Homo sapiens: one gene and its partners. The protein of the gene in region 1 purifies or fractionates together with the protein of each later gene. This does not show direct contact. Each region holds a gene or a part of one and is shown in the gene's direction. Other genes may lie near its edges.

Region 1 (4,416 bases):
CTGTGGGCAGCCTCTAGGACTTGAGAGTGGCTTCCAGATGATAGCCAGAAAAAAATCTGGGTCCTTACTCATAAAGCCACAAGGAAATGAATTATTTTTTTTTTTCCTGAGACAGGGTCTCACTCTCTCATCAAGGCTGTAGTGGCATGATCTTGGCTCACTGCAACCTCTGCCTCCCAGGCTCAAGCAATCCTCCCCTCTCGGCTTCCCAACTAGCTGAGACTAGAAGTGCATGCCACCACGCCCAGCTAATTTTTTGTACTTTTGAAGAGACATGTTTTTGCCATGTTGCCCAGGCTGGTCACGAACTCCTGGTCTCAAGTGATCCGCCAGCCTAAGCCTCCCAAACTGCTGGGATTACAGGCATGAGCCACCGCACTCAGCCAGAAATGAATTCTTGCTAACAACCTGAATGAGCCTGAACATAGATTCCTCCTCAGTCAAGCCTCCAGATGAGAATACAGCCTGCCTGACACGATTGTAGCCTTGTGAGACCCTGAGCAGAGGACCCAGTGAGGTTGACCCACGGAAACCATGAGATGATAAACGTTTGTGTTTTAAGCTGCTAAATTTGTGGTCATCTGTTATGCAGCAATGGATAACAGAGACCACTCTCAGGAATTAGTGGATATGAGGGAGAAAGGAGACCTCTCTGTGCTTCCTCTGTTTCCCAGGTTTTGTGATCAGGGATAGGGAGAATTCGGCTATTGATACAAATAGGGGAATCAACAGTAGTAACCTATTGAGTGGAGGAAGGGGAGATGAAGGCGACTTCTGTCTAAGCGCTGAGTTGGGAGAAAATAAGAGTAGTTACTTAGAATTTGGGAGTGGGGTTTGTGTGAGAATTCAAGGCTGATGGAAAATTCGGTCATTATCAGCACAGAGTTGACAACTTAAGTCCTAAGAACAAAAGTGTTGTCCCACGGAGGGTGTTCAGAGAAGCAGGAGGATGGGATTCGTCTCGGGGAGAGGCCACGGGTGGCCCTGGAAGAAGGAAGGCAGAACCAAACCCAGGAGGGCCAGTGTACTGCAGAGTCAAAGAGTTGACGGATTGGCTCTGTTGCTCTGGATAGTCCATTTTCCCTTCAAGGGTAATTGCAGTGCAACCTCTAATGGGCAGACTCCATTTTACAGGTAAGAAAAGTTGAAATACCTGGACCGATACCATACTGACAGTAAGTGAGGGCTGGATTTGAACTCGCGTCTCATATCACAGCCCAAGATCTTTCTGCTACACATTTAATTCATTCTTACCATCCAAGAGAGAATAAAATGAATAAGCGGAGGGCCAGCAGAGAGACTAACGAAAGGTCCCCGAGGTGCCCGGGAGGCGGAGCTGCAAGACCACCCGCACGCGCACGCCGCCGCCCTCCTTGCCTGAGCACAGGTTTCGCGGGTAGAAGGCGTGCGCAGGCGCGGACACGGGCGCATGCGCGTTCACTCCGGCGCGCAGTGCCGGCCGGGGCGGGGATACGCCGTGTGCGCGGCCGGGGGCGGAACGGAGGAGGAGGCGGTGGTGTCCCGGCTGCGGGGTAGGAGTCCGCGGCAGCCTCCGGGTAAGCCAAGCGCCGCGCAGTGCTGAGTTCCCGCACGCCGCAGAGCCATGGAGATCGGCACCGAGATCAGCCGCAAGATCCGGGTGAGGCCCGTGCCGGTCGGGGGTGGGAAGCCAGGTCTCGGCGAGCGGGCGGTTGTCAGGAGTAACGGGGACTGTGGGCCCGGGTGGACGCCGCGGCCTGGCCTCCGCTGGACGCTCCTGGCGGGCTGCGGCTCCTCCTCGTCCAGGCCGCCTCGGCCCTGGGGACATTTGCGGCCTCGGAGCGTGGCTGCGGCTGAAGTAGCCGCCGGGAAATGGAAGGACAGGCGCAGGCCCGGCTGGAGCCACCACCGCGGCGCACGGCGCCGCTTTGGATCCGCTGCGGGAGGTGGGCGCCGCGGGGCTGGGGCTGGAGCTGGAGTGGGGTGCGGGGTGGGGGGCGGTGCAGGCGAGGCTCCTCCCAGCCCCCGCCCGGGGGATCCGAGGTGCGCGCACCAGCAAAGTGGCCTCAGCCGCTGCAGAGTCCGGTCTTGTTTTCCTAGAGCCGCCTTTCTCACATGCACGTTTGCTCTTTTTCTCTCAGAGTGCCATTAAGGGGAAATTACAAGAATTAGGAGCTTATGTTGGTAAGTGTTTTTTTGGTTGTTAGTCTTACAGAATTTAGAGTTTGCAGCTAATAGAATTTTAGTGAATGCGTATTTCTCACCGTACTTTGGACATTGGGAGAGACTCCCTTCTACCTTCTTCAAATCTTATACTCCCTGGTTACTTCTTTATCATCTTTTTGCAACCTTGTTTTTTTTCTCCCAAACCTCCTTCTGTTATGGTGTTTTGAAATTTAGTTTCCTCCGTTAAGGCTCTGTTTGACCGAATTTTATTTTATGTTTTTCCTATTCTCTCTCTCTCTCATTTTAAATTCTAGGGACGGGTCTCGCTACGTTGCCCAGGCTGGTCTTAACTCCTGGGCTCAAGCAATTATCTGACCTTAGCCTCCCTAGGTGCTGGGAGTGCGGGGATTACTGGTGTGAGCCACCATGCCTGTTTAAAGTTTCCTATTCTTGTTACTTTCCTCTTGACATTTGTTTTTAGAACTCTGATGTTGGATGTGAATGTTTGATGCTTTCTGGCATTTGCTTCTGTAATGGTTCAGTGAGTTTTATTTTCCGATCTCTTTATGTTTTCCCTCTCTCTCTGAAACAGTAAGGCTTTTTCCGTCTCTTTATTCTTTTATAATTTGAGTGTTTACTCTGGGTCAGGTACTGTGCTTAACTATTGTATATGTATTAACTCAGGATAATCCCTACGAGAATCCTGGAAGGTAAGTGGCAGTATCTTTGACTGTGTAAACAAGGAAACTGAGGCTTTGCCTACTTGAGCAAGGTTTTATGGTTTGCCCCCAAAGCTGGTGCCTCCTATAAAAATAATAGCTACCACTAATGACAGTGGTTCTCAAAGTGTGGGAGACTCCAAGGGCCTCTGAAGTCAAAACTGTTTTCATATTAATACTAAGATGGTATTTGTTATTTTTCACTGTGGTGGTGGTGTTTGGATTGTGTAAAACTAATGGTTGATAAAACTTGTCAGCATAGTAACACCATAATGAAATCATATTCAAATCACTCCCCCCTTGTAGTTTTTTTCTTTTTGAGCCAATTACACTTAAAATGTCATTGATGAAGATGTGAAGTCCAGGGTTTACAAAATATTTTTTATCTTCTTAGTATTCAGTGCGAGGAAATAGAAATGCTCATAAAACATTTTTATTGTATACTGAAATACGATTGTTCTGAGGAAAATCATTTTAGTTGAGAACTAAGCTAGCCACCTCTTTCAGGGAACATCATTTTTAACTTCAAAGTACTGACAAACTGGTTACATACACTAGGATATTTGGCAGATATTTACTTGAAAGTGAGCAAAGAAAAGAATCCATAGTCTTTGTTGCCAATCACATGTGAGCTTTCAAATGAAAATTAGAATTTTGGAAAATCTGAGCCTGCCTCCATGAATTTCACAGCTTCCCAGTACTTAAAAAATTTCTGATTAAATAAATGGTGATTTAAAAAAAATTTGTTATTATTATTATTTTTTTTGAGATGGAATTTCACTCGTTGCCCAGGCTGGAGTGCAGTGGCGTGATCTTGGCTCACTGCAAGCTCTGCCTCCCGGGTTCAAGCGATTCTTTTGCCTCAGCCTCCCGAGTAGCTGGGATTACAGGCATCTGCCACTACACCCAGCTAATTTTTTGTATTTTTAGTAGAGACAGGGTTTCACCATGTTGGCCAGGCTGGTCTCAAACTCCTGACCTTGTGATTCGCGTGCCTCAGCCTCCCAAAGTGCTGGGATTACAGGTGTCAGCCACTGCATCCGGCCAACTCAATGGCGATATTAAAAAATAATTATTTTATACTGCATAATGAAATATATCAACGTGTCAGTGGTTTTTGTAGCTAAGTGAACCAATCTTTTCTAAATAACCAATGCATAATATTACAAAATTATGCAGTGGATTAAAGATTTATTTAAACTCTGGGGTGGGTCAGTGGATTTTTGTGCAACAGTTCAAAAAGGTCATTGACGTATTTGACATTCCACGTTGCTTTAACATTTAATAAGCTACCACTTGTTTAGTTTTGGTGTAGTGTCACAGAAGAATATCCACCTTATCTGAAAAGACTATCAGAATACTCCTTTTTCAACTGCATATCTGTGAGACCAGATTTTTTCATATTCTTCAGTCATAAGCACATAGAACAAGATATATAAAAATATGAAACAAGGCCAGTCTTTGCAGTAAATTTTTCTTTTTCTTTTTTTTGAGATGGGGTCTCACTCTGTGGTTCGGGCTGGAGTGCAGTGGTGCAATCTTGGCTCACTGC
Region 2 (3,500 bases), on another chromosome or scaffold:
TTAAAATGTAAATGTTAACACTTTTCCTTCCTGCTGAGATGTTTAGAGCCTAGTGCCAGACCCATTCATTTCCTTTTGATTATTTTTGAGACTCAGTACTGCATGGACCTCAGAAGCTTTTCAGGTGCAAACTTCTAGAAGCTTAGGTGCATGCAGTAATAGCTTCTTGTGCTGTTAATGGGTTATTATATATTATTCTAAGTGTAATGCTGAGAATCTAAATGTGTCTCTGTTGGGATGGTTAACAGATGAATTGGCAATTTTTATTATGTTCCTGGAAGATTACATTATTCATTTGAGTACCTTCTGTTATTAAGCCTAGGTAGCCTTACTGTGCAACTTTTTATTTATCCTTGGAAATTTTGAATGTTGTGTTCTTACAGAGAGCTTTTCTGTAGAGATGACTGCTATTCAATATTTTGTGTTGCAACCTCTTAAAATAATAGCTCTTGTTGACCTTTTTGGGATCTGTTTTTCTGATCTTTTGCAGGGTAGTTTTATGATTTTTTAGGCATCAAATAACCTATGCAAAGTATTAATATAATGAACTCAAGTTGAGTTTTTCTCATTATAAAGTTAAGACTTCTAAGAAAATGGTAACATTTCTTTATAACTTTCCTGTGAAGGTATAGATAAAACACATGAAGTCTGAAGTTGTATGGAAAAAAGGGCTTTAACTTTGAAGGAAAATATATTGAAAAGTGATTTAGCCATCACAAAAGAGTTCGTATTTATGTGACAGATGAAAGTCATACCTTTAAGCAAAACATTGCAAGTATTATAAAGCTGAATGCTATTTTAACTCACATTGGCTGGGTGCAGTGGCTCACGCCTGTAATCCCAGCCCTCTGGAAGGCTGAGATGGGAGGATTGCTTGAGTCCAGGAGTTTGAGACCAGCCTGGCCAACATGGCAAAACCCCATCTGTACAAAACATTTAAAAATTAGCCAGGCGCGTTAGTGTGTGTCTGTGGTCCCAGCTGCTCAAGAGGCTGAGGAAGGAGGTTCTTCCTCCTTCCGAGGCTGCGGTGAGCTATGTTCACTCCAGCCTGGGCAACAGAGCGAGACTCTGTCAAAAAATAAATTAAAATATCTGATTATCTGGCTTCAATGATTTTGGCTCCTGTGCTTGTGGTACCATAGTGGTACAAAAATTTTCATAGTTTGAAAATAAAACAGGTATTTTGCCAGTAATGTATTTCTTTCTGCCAGCAGCCAAGTCCCAAACCACTTTCCCCTCTGAACCTCTGCTTACCTAAATGGTTTCAAAATTAATACATGCTGCTTTGATTTGGCAGCACACTTAATATACTGCTGAAGGAAAACTTGTGTTGAAAGTCTTTAAGATAAAAATGGTGTGATAGGCCGGGCGCAGTGGCTCACGCCTGTAATCCCAGCACTTTGGGAGGCCCAGGCGGGTGGATCATGAGGTCAGGAGATGGAGACCATCCTGGCTAACACGGTGAAACCCCGTTTCTACTAAAAATACAAAAAATTAGCTGGGCGTAGTTGCGGATGCCTGTAGTCCCAACTACTCTGGAGACCGAGGCAGGAGAATGGCGTGAACCCGGGAGGCATAGCTTGCAGTGAGCGGAGATCACACCACTGCACTCTAGCCTGGACGACAGATTGAGACTCCGTCTCAAAAAAAAAAAATGCTGTGATTAAATTTAGAATAATTAAGTAAGGGGTGCTCTCCCAAATTCTCAGGAATTTCATGTATACGGTTATTGACAAACTGCAATAGGGTTAGTAGACCTGTTTCAGAAATTATGTGAAGCTTTATTTGCATTTTATGCAAAGAAGGTTGATACTTTGTAGCAAGGTTTTTTGCTCTCTGTATAGGTCTGATGGGCAAAAATGGAACTTTTAAATATGGGATAGAATTCTAATTAAAAATTAATTGAAAGTGTTAGGCATTGGCAGATAAAACTTAAGCTCATGAGTTCCTGAGTTTGTAGCTATAGGCTCAGAGGTGGTGTACCCATTTAATATATTTGAAGTGTAATTTTTGCATGCATCCAAACGTAATTAAGCTTCTAGAAAATACCTTTTTTCTAAATGCTTCTGGGGTCCATAGTGTGGTTGAATTATGAGTGGAGCAAATTATATTCATATAATTAACTCTGACTCAACCTTCCTTAAGTAGTAGATGAAGTTGAGTCAAAGTGGATGCCAACTGCCCTCACAGAAGACAACTTTTGGGACTTGATAATTCAGGCAGGCATTGTGATTGTCATAATTAAGGAAGCTGTAAGGTTAGTAGGGCTGGCAACTTTGGCTCTACCTTACATCCACCCCTTTTAGAAAAACAAGAAAACATTTTGTCTGGCACTAGTTTCTGTTGTATAAGTTTTCATACTGTTTAACAAGACCACAGCAGGTAAGGATTAATTTTTGAGTGGCTGCTGGAATTACTTGATTTGAATACTTAGTATTTTAGTAGTGTCTCACACATTTGCCATTAGGTATGAATAAAATATTCCTACTGTACTCCTATTCCACTAAGTTACATTTTGAACTTAGACTCACCTTAATTAAACTTAATTAATTGGGGAGGGGGATTCCCCAACAAAAAGAAGTACGGGCTCAGAGTGGAATTGTAGTGGACAATAGTTAAAAACAAAGCTGCTCCTTTTGCTTGCTTGATCATTGGGATTTTTAAAAAAAAAAATTTTAATGCATGTCTTTTAAATTAATTGGGAACTGTTTTTCTAAAATTAAAATTTTCTTCTTCCTATAGCCCTGCCATAGGACAGGCTGAGGCTGAGTCTCAGTGTTGCCCTGTTCAGTCTGAGGCAAGTGGGATTTATTTTATTCCTTATAGGGGCTTTCACAGCTTTATGGCTGTTGGATATTTATGTCCCCAAACTTGCAGCAAGTTTGGTGAAGGCCCCTAAATTTAATTAAACTTAGGATTTTTATACTCTTTTGGCAGAGAAGGCTCTATATTAATATTCACGTTTGACTGTGGTGTTAATAAACATAAGTATTTCATATGCAATTTTATGTAATTTGCTGTGTGTTACATAATTAACAGCTTCAGTAAAGCTTGTGTTCCTATATTGAACTTCAATAAATTGACAAAATTTGATATTTTTGATTGGAGGCAAGAAATGTTTCATTCAAGTTTTTTACTTTCACTTCTAGGAAAATCTTACTGGTTTTATTTTCTCCATAAACTATTAAATTTAACCTCAAGGATAAGTTTAATCATTGGAAATGCCACTGGATACTGAAATGTGCCTTCTCTTTTTTGAGACGGAGTTTCACTCTTATCACCCAGGATGGAGTGCAGTGGTGCGATCTCGGTTCACTGCAACCTCTGCCTCCCGGATTCAAGTGATTCTCCTGCCTCAGCCTCCCGAGTAGCTGGGATTATAGGCTCCCGCCACCACATCTGGCTATTTTTTCAATATTTTTCAGTAGGGATGGGGTTTTGCCGTGTTGGCCAGGCTGGTCTCAAACTCCTGACCTCAGGTGATCCACCCATCTCAGCCT
Region 3 (4,204 bases), on another chromosome or scaffold:
TAAGATTTTTATATTCATTTTTAGTGAATGTTATACCGTATACCGTAAGTACTCTCCCCCCACAATCCTTCTGCCTCTCATCTTCCCTTTTCCATTTTCCTAATACCTCCTACTGCCTCCTCTCAACTACCCTTGTGTGTTTCTTCATCTTTCTCCGTGCTTATTCAAAAATATCCTGCCACACACACACACACAGGCTTCTCTTTTTGTTATTCAGACATTTAAAAAAATTAATTCTTGATCATTCAACTTGATTATTTAGACATTTCTGTACAGCCATCTTTTCTCGTTTACCACCACATCATGGCTGTCTGCCCCTCTACATCCGCACACGGAGCTCTAACGCATGCTTGTTAAACAGCCTTCGTAATAGTCTTTAAAGATCAACCACACTGTTCCCACGTAACCCTACCTCCCAGGTAGGGTTCCCCCAGTAACACTTTCACACATAACTTATTTACTGTTCCTTTTACTTCTGGAAGATTCCGAGAGGAAAGATTGCTGGGTCAAAGGTCACACGCGTTTTCAATTTTAATAGCTATTCCTGGATTACCTCCTCAAAGGGCTCTAACAACTCGCATTGCTCTCAGCGTGTGAGAGGGTCCTTTGCTCTGAAGGGTCTTCTAAAATATTTGTTCAATCGTTACTTAGCAGGGGCTGGGAGTAACGGATTTTATTTTATTTTATTTTATTTTTTGAGACGGAGTCTCGCTCTGTCGCCCAGGCTGGAGTGCAGTCGCGCAATCTCGGCTCACGGATTTGCTCTTTTAAAGGACATACCCTTTTATGTTTAAATGAAGGAACTCATTGATGCACCGAGGCGAAAGGAACCTTTAATTAAGTGCGTCTTCTATGCGGAGTGATCGCTTTTGTCACTTGTTCGAGGGGTGAGAGCTCCCGTCAGTTGTCCCTGTTTCTGTGAGCCGTCTACGAAGCCCGGGCTTGGCCTGGGCGACGCTGAGCGGCTTTAACCGGCGGCGTCCAGCCGGCTCCGCCAGCGCTGCCGCCGCCCTCGAGGCTCCCTCTGACTGAAGGCGCGCTGAGCATCGCGGCATTAGGGGCTCCTGGTCCCTCAAACATCCAGGGAAGCCATTTTCAGGGACTAGGTACTGACCCCCGCGAGCCGCCACAGCCACAGCCCGCGCTCCGGGCCGAACGCCCGAGCTCAAGAGCTCCCGAGCTTCCGTCGGGCGGCGGCCTCACAGCTGGGGGCCCTGAGGCGGAAGGCGCAGCCGCTCAGCTGCGGACCGGGGGCGTGGCGAGGGCGCACAGGTTCTGTTTTTCGCCGGCCCGGGGCCGCTTTCGGTTTCGTTTCCCGCCGGCGTCTCCACCCTGCGAGAGCCGCCCGCCAGCCAGCGTCCGCCGCCGTCCGCGTCGCGCCACCCGCGGTCCGACGGGAGCAGGCCCAGCGGCCATGGCCCAGGCCGGCGTCGTCGGTGAGGTCACCCAGGTGCTGTGCGCGGCCGGGGGCGCCCTGGAGTTGCCCGAGCTGCGGCGCCGCTTGCGGATGGGCTTGAGCGCCGACGCGCTGGAGCGGCTGCTGCGGCAGCGTGGGCGCTTCGTGGTGGCGGTGCGGGCGGGCGGCGCAGCCGCGGCCCCGGAGCGCGTGGTGCTGGCCGCCTCGCCGCTGCGCCTGTGTCGCGCGCACCAGGGCTCCAAGCCGGGCTGCGTGGGGCTCTGCGCGCAGCTCCACCTCTGCAGGTTCATGGTCTACGGCGCCTGCAAGTTCCTGAGAGCCGGGTAAGGCGCCGCGCCGGGAGCGACGGCGGGCGGAGGTCCTGCGCGCCCTCACGCACTTCCAGCCCGCTTGGGGGTCCTACTTGAAGTTTGAGCAGACAATTCGGTGGCTCTGCCCTGACCTCGCACCGTCATTCACTAAAGCGAGCGTTTAATGAGCACCTGCGGAGTACCTGGCACAGTGCGAGGGACTCAGGGTCGAGTGGGGTCCTCTAGACGCCTGGGGGGAGAGAGTGATTTACATAGAGCATGGTAGTGCCGGGTGGAACACCCGGGTGTGGCCGTGTGGGGTGGGGAGGGAGGGAGGCGGCGGCTTAGGGGAACTCCACGACGCCGCGGGTCGCCCCTTGCCAGCTTTGAGGCCAGACAATGAAGGTTTTCTCTGCCCAGCAGCTGGTAGAGATCTTTAAACCCAGTTCAACCCTATTAATCTGCTTACAAACTGGAAAATGCAGACTCCCTGCCATCGCCCACAAGGTCCTGGGGCACTGGTCCCTGCCCACCCAGGACCCTTCTGTGACTGGAACACCCCCCCCCCCCCGGGCATTTCTGGGAGCCTGGGCATTTCTGGGAGTCTTTGCTCTGCCTGGAATGCCCTTCTTGCTCTTGGTTGGCCCTATTTGTTAATCCTTCAGGCCTCAACCTAAAGATCACATCCCATTTGAGGATTTTTCCTCCCCTTACTCTTGGTCACAGGGAACTGTTTATTTTCCTCATGGCACCCAGCTGCCAGTAGAATAGAAACTCCCTGAGGGCAGAGGCTCCAGCTGTCTCCCCAGCACTTAGCGTCCATGTTCTGTGCATAGCATGTGGCCAGTGGGATGTGTGGAAGGGATTGCTGAGGTTTATGCTAAAGAATTTGGGCCTCACCCTGGAGGTGATGGGGCGGGTAAAATGGCAGGAGAGAGCAACCATCAGGTTTGCGTTTTAGGAAGTCTAAGGTAGTGGTGTGGGTGCCAATTTAAGGGAGGATGTTGTGGGGGAACCACTGGGAAGCTAGTCATCAAGGAGAATTCCTTCCTCCCCTGCTCCCTCCTTTCTTGCTTGCTCCCTGTTTTGTGTGTGTGTGTGTATGTTTGTCTTAATAGAGTAGATATTTCTTGCTCATGTCAGGCCCAGTAGTGAGCATGGGGTGGGGGCCTTGATCCATACAGTCATTCAGGGATGCAGGCTGACTGACCTCCGCTCTGTGCCCCTCAGCACATGGCTCTTGAGGCCAGCCTAGGTTATCAAGTTCGAGGGGGCTGATCGAAAAGAGGGATGCATGGGAGGTTTTTGTGGGCCAGGTCTAGAAGTGGTGGATTTCCTTTCACCCACATCCCATTGACCAGAAGCTGTCTCGTGACCCTGTCTAGATGCAGGGTGACTGGGAAATGCCTCTAGGAAGCAGCTGTCTGGAAGTATCTAGATTAGAGCTTTCCAAGGGCTATGTGTGTGAGAAATTTGGGATAGCTGGTGACGGTGTGATGAGAGGATATGTGAGAGGTGACGACTCTTCAGTCTCTGTTCCTGCGGTGGCCTGGGTGTTGTTCACTGAGAGAGCAAGAGAGGGTTTTAGTTTGGAAGCATGCCCAGGAGGCAGCTGTTCAGGTCAGAAGCTTGGGAGGAAGGCCAGGGCCCCAATGCGCTGGGCTGGTTTGGGAGATATTGGGCGGTGTATGTTGTAGTTGCAGCCCCAGGAGTGGATCAGATCTGAGGTAGCGTCTGAGGCCTGAAAAGAGGCTGAGGGTGGAACTCTGGGGAAATCAGCCTTCAGGGATGAGGCAGTCCAGGGGAGAGCAGGGAACAACAGCCCACGAGGAGGAAGGCACACAGCAAATGGTGGCTGGATAGAGCCACTCATGGGGGTAACTGGTAGATCTGTTTCATGTTCATATTTGGTAAAATAAAGATGGCAGCCCTGTTCTTAAGCTAGTTCCCAAAATGTGGGGTCAGGTCTGACTTGTCTCGGAAATCTGTAGTGTGATATTTACTGGCTCAGATGACCTTGAGTTTTCTTCTTTCTTCAGTTTTCTCTTTTCCTTGTGGTTTACACAGGTGAGTTTCTTGAACCTTCCATTTCTGACTCACTTTAGGGAGAGTGGGTGTGGTTGGCTGCACTTTTCTGCTTCCCCTGTGACTCTGCTTGTCTTCCTGAACCGCAGGGTCAGTTCTTTTAGAAATAGCTCATCAGTCCTGCTGCAGAGCTGGTACGGAGTCCTGGGTGCCTGACTCTTAGTCCTCTACTCAGGAGGCATTGAGCCTGGTGGTCTAGGGCACAGTCCCAAGATCCAGCCCACCTTGTTTCAACCTGGGCTCTGCTCCTTGCTAGCTGATGGCTTCGGGCAAGTGACTTTACCTCCAGGTCTCAGTTCCCTCATCTGCAAAGTGGAGTTAATGATATTACTACCCTCACAGGCTGGTTGAGGACTGAATGATTAACTCATAAAACATTTTGGCAATCCCCGATATTTGGCAGTTGCTCAAT

The links.
Region 2: the proteins of ZC3H14 (region 1) and ZNF207 fractionate together in Homo sapiens (co-fractionation; one large-scale study listed by BioGRID). This does not show direct contact.
Region 3: the proteins of ZC3H14 (region 1) and PARP12 purify together in Homo sapiens (co-immunoprecipitation; one large-scale study listed by IntAct). This does not show direct contact.

The regions. Positions count from the first base shown.
Region 1 is NC_000014.9:88,561,531-88,565,946, forward strand, and holds the start of ZC3H14 (zinc finger CCCH domain-containing protein 14), read left to right. Parts: upstream 1-1,506; 5' UTR 1,507-1,603; coding exon 1,604-1,639; intron 1,640-1,816; exon of another isoform or gene 1,817-1,925; intron 1,926-2,120; coding exon 2,121-2,163; intron 2,164-4,416. UniProt on the Homo sapiens protein: RNA-binding protein involved in the biogenesis of circular RNAs (circRNAs), which are produced by back-splicing circularization of pre-mRNAs.
Region 2 is NC_000017.11:32,370,657-32,374,156, forward strand, and holds part of ZNF207 (BUB3-interacting and GLEBS motif-containing protein ZNF207), read left to right. Parts: 3' UTR 1-3,500. UniProt on the Homo sapiens protein: Kinetochore- and microtubule-binding protein that plays a key role in spindle assembly. ZNF207/BuGZ is mainly composed of disordered low-complexity regions and undergoes phase transition or coacervation to form temperature-dependent liquid droplets.
Region 3 is NC_000007.14:140,060,058-140,064,261, reverse strand, and holds the start of PARP12 (protein mono-ADP-ribosyltransferase PARP12), read left to right. Parts: upstream 1-1,310; 5' UTR 1,311-1,414; coding exon 1,415-1,740; intron 1,741-4,204.